Linked DNA regions of Homo sapiens. The protein of the gene in region 1 purifies or fractionates together with the protein of each later gene. This does not show direct contact. Each region holds a gene or a part of one and is shown in the gene's direction. Other genes may lie near its edges.

Region 1 (4,272 bases):
GTGCATGTTCTTCTCTAGTTCCTCTTCCCAGAAGGATTAAAAACAACAGTGCAGCCATTAGAGAGCCAAACTTCACAGCCCAAGAGTGAGGTAAGAAACCATTAGTGGCTAGGCATGGTGGCTTACGCCTGTAATCCCAGCACTTTGGGAGGCTCAGGCAGGTGGATCACAAGGTCAGGAGTTTGAGACCAGCCTGGCCAACATGATGAAACCCCTTCTTTACTAAAAATACAAAAATTAGCCAGGGGTGGTGGCACGCACCTGTAATCCCAGCTACTCGGGAGGCTGAGGCAGGAGAATTGCTTGAACCTGGGAGGTAGAGGTTGCAGTGAGCTGAGATTGTACCATTAAACTCCATCTCTGGGCGACAGAGAAAGACTCTGTCTTGGAAAAAAAAAAAAAGAAACCATTAGCTACAGTCAGAGAATTCTATGCTCAGTTGCTGGGTTCTAGAGTCAGCTGAGGGGCTGAGAGAAAATCTTGTAGCTTAGGTACATGACCCTATATGACCATGAGACCCAAGAGGGGTGGTTTTCCCTGGACTAGTAAGGACAGACATGAGAGACTAATTTGTGTCTTTTATATTTATGTGTGTCAAATCCTGGCCCTTAATAGGAACACAGTAAGCATTTGTTGAGAGAAAGAATAAACCATTTGGGATTTTTTAAAAGAGCAAATTCAGAATTTTAAAATATTAATTCAGAAGTAGTCATGTGCTTTTCTGCGTTTACCTTAATAATGCAGAAGAAATGTATATTTCAAGTGCGAGAAACTACTTTCTTGTTATAATGGAAAACTTTTTAGTGCCTTCAGTTCAGTACTGGGGATATAAATCTGCCTTCCAGCTAGATGACAGAATTTATTACATAACCAGAACCCAATGGTGAGAAATATACATAAGAAAAACCCACACTGGGCAAACCAGGTGTTTGCTCCCACCAGTGAGCGTGTCCCCTTCCCCATGTGCCTCAACCAGTGGAATTAACTTGTCTCTTTGGGAAGGAAAAGATAATATTGATCTGCAGGGCATACTTACCTATATATCATGTGCTGCTTTACCAACATTTCAGCCCCGTAATGACCCTCATAAGCTAAGCATTGCCATTCCCATTTTAAAGAAAAAGAAACTGAAACTCGGAGAGGTTAAGTAACAGAACCAGCTAGTGGTAGAGCCCCGAGTTAACACCCCAAAGGTGGTGCTTTTCTCGCCAGACCAGGCTGCCTTGGGGCTTCTGGACTTCCTCTTCCTGATGTCTCTCTTCCGTGATTGCTGTGGGAATTTGGATGATTTCTCATGTGAGTGAACCTGGCTCAGCCCATGCTCAGGCAAACAGAAGCGCCAGTCTCTGACAGGGTTCTGAGCAAATTCGTCAAGTCAGGCGGGTCCTGGGCTGCGGTATCTGGGCTGTACTTTGCCCTAATGAATCAGCTCCATGGAGGTTGGGCAGTTGCAAAGGTAACTGACATGATGTAGATCTGAGGGCCTGGGGAGTCTTGGTAGATGTGGCACCTGGACTTTGACAGTCTCCAAGAGGAGAGGAGGCACTCTTGGGCCAGGTCCCTGGAGCAGCGCTGAAGGAAGGTGGGAAGCCATCAGAGCAGGTGTGTGGGAACACTCGCTCCCTTCTTTCCCCTCTTTGAGCTGGACGTGCTGTGCCGTCAGATTAGGAAAGGCAAGATTGCCTTTACTGGGGCTAGGAAAGGTCATCTACATGAATGTGTGAGTCTGATTTGTCATCATAGATGTAATTCCTTCATTTTGAGAATCGAAGGTGTTATTTATTTGGTGTCCTTAATCTGAGGACTGATTTGCTGGAGTTGATGTCTCTTGGCAGCAAAATGATGTGATTTCAGTGGAAAGATTGGGTGTTGCACCTTTGCAGTTGGGAAAGGGCTGCCTAATGAGACTATCTGGGGACAAGGAGAAAGCAGGTTTCTTCTCATTCTGCTTACTTGGTCCAAATGGTTTTGAGTTCCACCAGCCTTCAGAAAAGGCTCATGTGCCCTTCCCTGTGTCTGGGACATTTGGCCTTTCCTGGGATTTGCTGGCAAAGGCTGTCATTGCACCTGGCTTTTTCAAGGGAGTGAGATGATATGGGAAGGAAGCCAGAGGTTCCCCTGAGTTGTGAGTGACCTTGAGGTGGGAGGCCCCCTCCGCACCTTGTTCTTCTTGTGTGTTCTGCCGTCTCATAGCTCTTGGCTCATAGCTGTCGACCTCGGCTCCCTGGTGTTTGAGCAGAGTGACGTCTCAATTTCAACACCCACTCTTTTGACCTTTTGTTCTGATATGAATTTTTATATGAGGCTGGGACCTTCAGTAGTGGAAACAAGTTAACTGATTTGATCAGAATCTTGCAACCTAAAACAGTTCCTAAGGAAGAAAAAAATCGAGGCCGACCTAGCCTGTGGATGCTCCTGACACAAGGAATCCCTGAGCAAGAGTAAGATCTGAGGCGTGCTTTCCTTTTGTGGGTGCAACCCCTGTCCCCCGCTACCCCGTGCAATGGGCAGAGGAACCTGGAAGGTAATCAGTCCTTGGAGCAATTTCCCTTTTTCAGGATTACGTGGGGGAAAATTAGTTTGATGCTAGGGAGACTTTCAGCATTTAAAATCTCCAACCGGGAAGAATCCTGAGATATGGCCTTCTATTTTCTTATGAAAACAATCCCAAATTTGCCTCTTGTTGGCTCCTCTGGAGGAGGAGCAGGTATGACCATATTATATAGGTTCTAGTTCTTTGAGGGGGTTAATGTAAGGATTCAGAAAAGGTGCTTCTTGAAAAGGTCAGTCTAAATTTCTTTTTGTTTAATAAACATCTTCAGCCACTCATACTACCCTAATCTTTATCCTTGATAACACTGCTATTTATTGAGCATTTTAACATGTTAGGTAACATGTTACGCACTTCGCATAGGTTATCTTTAACTCTGTCAATAACCTTGCAAGGTAGTCCTTACAGTCTCCATTTCATGGGTAAGGAAATTGAGGCTTGAAAAAATGAACTAGCTAGTTAAGTGGCAGAGTTAGGATTTGAACTCTGATCTAGCTCTCTGCAAGACCCACTCTGTTTATGATACCACAGGGCCTCCGCTGTAAGTGTTAAATAAACACTTGCTGGGGGAATATGTGAAGAAACATCAACTGGGATTCCTTGATAGCATTTTTAGCTGTACCTATTATTGTTATCTGTCTCCCTTGCCTCCCTCATCTGTCGTTGTTCCACATGTACTTTTTAATTTTTTAAGCAATATTAATATAATTGTCTAGTCTGTTATTTGCTTCATGTATCTGAGATTGTTTCTCAGATTTCTCTGTATCCGTGACCATATGGTTTGTTTTAGATATATTTCGAGGACCATAGCTGCTCTTTTCACAAAACCTAATCAACCACTATGTTTGGATATAGGCTTCAAGTGATGATTTTTTCCTTTTTCTTTTGTCTGCAGGAAGATAAAATAACTGCACAACTTACTCAAAACCCAGGACAAATTCAGAGAGTCAAGGATGGAACTTTGGGCTCCCCAGAGGCTGCCCCAGACACGAGGGAAGGCCACAGCACCCTCAAAGGATCCAGACCGAGGGTTTCGGAGAGATGGACATCATCGGCCTGTCCCTCACTCTTGGCACAATGGAGAGAGGTTTCACCAATGGCAAGACAACCGTGGGAGCCCCCAGCCACAGCAGGAGCCCAGGGCAGACCATCAGCAGCAGCCCCATTATGCATCCAGGCCAGGGGACTGGCATCAGCCTGTGTCTGGAGTTGACTATTACGAAGGTGGTTATCGCAATCAGTTGTATTCAAGGTATGGCTTTAGGGCTTGGAATGAATGCAACTCTCCTAAATGCGTATGAATAGGTTGTTCTTTTCCTTCTTCCTTTTCCTTTTATTTTTCTCCCCCTTTTTTCTTTTTCCTTCTCTACCTTACTACGTGGCTTTAGCTAAATCCTGTCCTCTCCCAAATTTGTTTTTGATGACTGAAGATAGTATTTCTCTCCTGTTTTTCCCCTAGTGGAGCTTCTTAAAGAAGCCATCACAAATGCCACTGGGTATGGGGGCTTGGGGAGGCAGTGTCAAGGGTAGAAAAAGTGGTGAAATTCAAGACAGCAGATGGAACCCTCTTGCTCTGGGATTGCAAAAGTTCATTTATGTAGACTATGGAAAAGCTTTTCTTGGAGATCCCTATAAGGAGTTCCTCGTTGTCATTGGACCACTCTACCTTGGGATTAGCATGACACTACCAGCACCAAGAAGAGTCCTAGTGCCTACGACAG
Region 2 (3,817 bases), on another chromosome or scaffold:
GCTCCAAACATCTTGTTCTCACAACACAACATCGAAAGGGCTGCTTTTCTTCACATGTGTCTTTTAAACAGGGAGAAAACTTAGAAGCATGCAAGGGGCTTCCTGTAACATTTCATTGGCTGGGTCATACCACATGCTCATTCCCAAACCAGGCACTGGGAAGGTAAATATCTGATTAGCTTAGAATAAACATTTCTTTCTGAGGCTGAGGAGGGGGATTGGGATATTAAATATCCCAATAGACTTATGTTTTTTCTGCCAGAAAGAATGAGGAATGGCTATTGATAGGGAGCCAACAATGTGTGCTGGAGGGGGCTCATTGGAGAAATTTGAGCAGGGGAGCCACAAGATTAAATTTGAGTATTAAGGCATTCTGGTTATGGTGTAAAATGGGTTAGCAAGCTTTTTCTTTAAAGGACCAGGTGGGAAATATTTTGGACTATGTGGTCTCTGTCATATCTACTTAACCGTGCTGTTGTCTGCTGTTGTAGTGTGAAAGCCACCATGATTATATGTAAGCAAACAGGCATGACTGAGCTCCTATAAAACTTTATTTACAAAACCATAATGCAGATTGGATTTGGCCTGTGGCCTATAGTTTCCTGGGATTGATGGGAGATAATCATGCAAAGAAACCAGGAGACAAAGGAAGCTTTTGCAGTAGTCAGCTATAGTTTCCATGTCACACATCCTTGGAGTAGCATCAATGTATTACAAGGTTTTCACCCGTCCATGGTAAAATAAATAACGTTAGAAATCTCAGTTACTCATTTTACTATGTTGGCCTTCGTTATGCCTTTTTCACTTGTTTTGCTTAATTTTTTTTCCTGTAAGAAATAACATTAATAGTTGGCAGTTTTCTTTTAAATAGAAGTCATTTTGTAAATGTTTGTGTTCCCAGTGGCAGTGGGAATATAAAACAGAGGCAGAAGAGAGGTATAGTCAATATGATTTAGTGATAATTGAATGAGAAAGGCTTGGGGGACAGAGAGAAATCTCAGATGATGTACAGGTTTCCAGATTGCACACTAGTATTTAACCTGGACATGAGGAAGGAGTAGGAAATTTTCTGGTGAATACAGGAGAGCAAAGAGCAGCAGGTCAGCAGGAATGACTAATGTTTTTCGATGCATGTTTAATGGAATATTCGTGTAGGGTATTTTGAGTAGGTAATTGGATAATCAGCATTTATAACTCGCATCCTACTAGTTTGACTCTAAGTAATAAGACTTGTCAAAGATCCAAGAATCTGAAAGTCAGTAATAAATGTCCATGTGCATCATCGTCCGTGACAGAAAGTCAGCATCCACAGAACACAGAATTGGGACAGATGAACTTAATAGATAAAGATGAATATCGGAGTTGTTCCTCTTAGGGAATGATACTCTCCATGACCTGTGTGAGTCACAGCTGCCAGAAAAGAAAGAGCAAGGAGCGTATGAAGGCAGCACAGCAAATTCGGTCCTAGAGTGCCCTGCTTGGCTTCATGTCATAGTTCTGACTTCTAAATAATCATTTTCTGCAAAATGTGCTTTTTGTTTTTCCCTCTTGCCGCCTGCAGCCAATCAGAATCTTTTTAGCAGGACATAATGAAAAGAAGTAAGAGAAAGAGTGTTTTTTTGTAATGGGATAGTATTTAACGTAAACTTGAGAGTGAGTACCAGGATTATACTTAGAATTTATGGACTGGATGGGAAGACTGGATAGAAATCTAAAGATTGCTGACTCAAACACAATGTGGTTTCTTTGATTTATTTTCACAGCTCTGAATTCACGACTGTTAATTGTATTCATATGCATTATAACTTTACAAAGCATCTTCCGAAACCAAATATTTACTGATTTATTATAATTTGTATGACTTTATTATAGAACTGACTTTCCAAGTGTTCATGAGAATTGTTTAGAATTTGCTACATTGTATCATCTCAGCTGTGTCCACATGAGCTATCTGTCACCTTGTCTTAATGAATAATTGTTCACTAGGAATATTGGTTTTGGCATTGAAATGATCTATATCTAAATGCAGATAGGACCCGGGACCACTTTTGAACATTAATGTTCAAGCATCTTAAAATTACACATAATGCTTTCATAATCTGACTTCTGCCCCACTCTCCATCTTTAGCCCTTTTCCCTGTGTGCCCTGTCTCTGGCATTACTGAACTGCTGGCAGTGCCCTACTCACTCATCCTTCTATTGTAGGCAAATACTTTCACTCTTTCAGGAGTCGCTCCCGCTCTTGCTGCTGCGTGGCATGCCGTCACCCTTTCCTGCCCTCTACACCTTTTAATCTGGCTAGTCTCAATATTTAAGTCTCTGCTTGGGCATGTGTTCTAGAAAAGCCATCTCTGACATGCTTTATTTTAATTCTTTTTAAACCCTAATGCCTAGCATGTATTTAGCAGGACTCAATAAAATATTTCTGAGTAAAACAAAGACTGTTTTTACAAAGATGATGTGCAAGACTCTCCCCTGCAGTCTTGGAGCAGAGGGGACAGACGTGGAGGAATAATGTACAGTTTAGGTGGTCAAGATGCAGTAGAAAAATCAGTAAAGTACTAAGGCAGCCTCAAGGAAGGAGGTACCTGTTTATTTGGGGAAAGACATGCAGAATCAAGGAAGACTTCATATAGCATTGTTTCAAAAGATGAAAATAAGGCCAGGTGTGGTGGCTCACACCTGTAATCCCAGCACTTTCAGAGGGAATCACGAGGTCAGGAGATCGAGACCATCCTGTCCAATGGTGAAACCCCATCTCTACTAAAAATACAAAAATCAGCTGGGTGTGGTGGTGCTTGCCTGTAATCACAGTTACTCAGGAGACTGAAGCAGGAGAATCACTTGAACCAGGGTCGCGGAGGTTGCAGTGAGCTGATCACACCACTGCATTCCAGCCTGGTGACAGAGGAAGACTCTAGCTCATAAAAAAAAAAAAAGAAAAAAGAAAAAAAGAAAATAAATTTGTCAGAATAGTGGAGAGAAACATTTTAGATATTAGGAAGATGTTGTACACTAATAAAGGTGTCAGCAGTGATTTTGGAAATCATTTATAAGGTACTATTAGGAAGTGGAGAACAGTACACTGTGTCACCTTATATGTTTCTACTGTATTTTAAAGCTGTGTTTCTGGTGGTTTTGTTCATGGATGTTGGGTGGATGAATTTGTGAGGGAATTTTTGACATGTTTGTTTGTCTTCAATCTGGTGACATCTGCTATCTCCCCAAGTGGGTTTTTGAAGTTTTTGAGAATTATTTCTTAAATGACAATTTCACAAAAGATGAAACACTCAATTTATGAAATAAAATGAAATGTCTCAAATCTGTTTTTAAAAGGCAATAGTTTTTAACTGTTTTAAGTGGTTGATTTTAACTGAATGTATGGATTTTTCAACAGAACAAGACTTAAAGCTGACATCAGAGGAAGAGTCACAAAGGCTTAAAGGCAGTGAAAATGGCCAGCCAGAGGCATGGAAACTTTTAAATTTAAACTTTTGTTTAATGTTGTGTTTTTTTTGCCTTAATAATATTAGATAGTCCAAATGAAATTACCTTTCAGACTAGGCTTTGAGAATCAGTAGATTGTTTTTTTAAGAATCTTTTGGCCAGGCAAGGTGGCTCACGCCTGTAATCCCAGCACTTTGAGAGGCTGAGGCAGGTGGATCACGAGGTCTGGAGATCGAGACCATCCTGGCTAACATGGTGAAACCCCGTCTCTAGTAAAAATACAAAAACTTAGCTGGGCGTGGTGGTGGGTGCCTGTAGTCCCAGCTACTCGGGAGGCTGAGGCAGGAGAATGGCATGAACCCAGGAGAGG

What was found.
Region 2: the proteins of SEC16B (region 1) and POTEF purify together in Homo sapiens (affinity purification with mass spectrometry; 2 studies listed by BioGRID and IntAct, with this or other methods). This does not show direct contact.

Annotation. Positions count from the first base shown.
Region 1 is NC_000001.11:177,967,214-177,971,485, reverse strand, and holds the start of SEC16B (protein transport protein Sec16B), read left to right. Parts: upstream 1-1,427; 5' UTR 1,428-1,602; intron 1,603-3,446; 5' UTR 3,447-3,504; coding exon 3,505-3,803; intron 3,804-4,272. Other genes in the region: CRYZL2P-SEC16B (protein transport protein Sec16B), read left to right, coding at 3,505-3,803. UniProt on the Homo sapiens protein: Plays a role in the organization of the endoplasmic reticulum exit sites (ERES), also known as transitional endoplasmic reticulum (tER). Required for secretory cargo traffic from the endoplasmic reticulum to the Golgi apparatus.
Region 2 is NC_000002.12:130,087,718-130,091,534, reverse strand, and holds part of POTEF (POTE ankyrin domain family member F), read left to right. Parts: intron 1-3,397; coding exon 3,398-3,468; intron 3,469-3,817.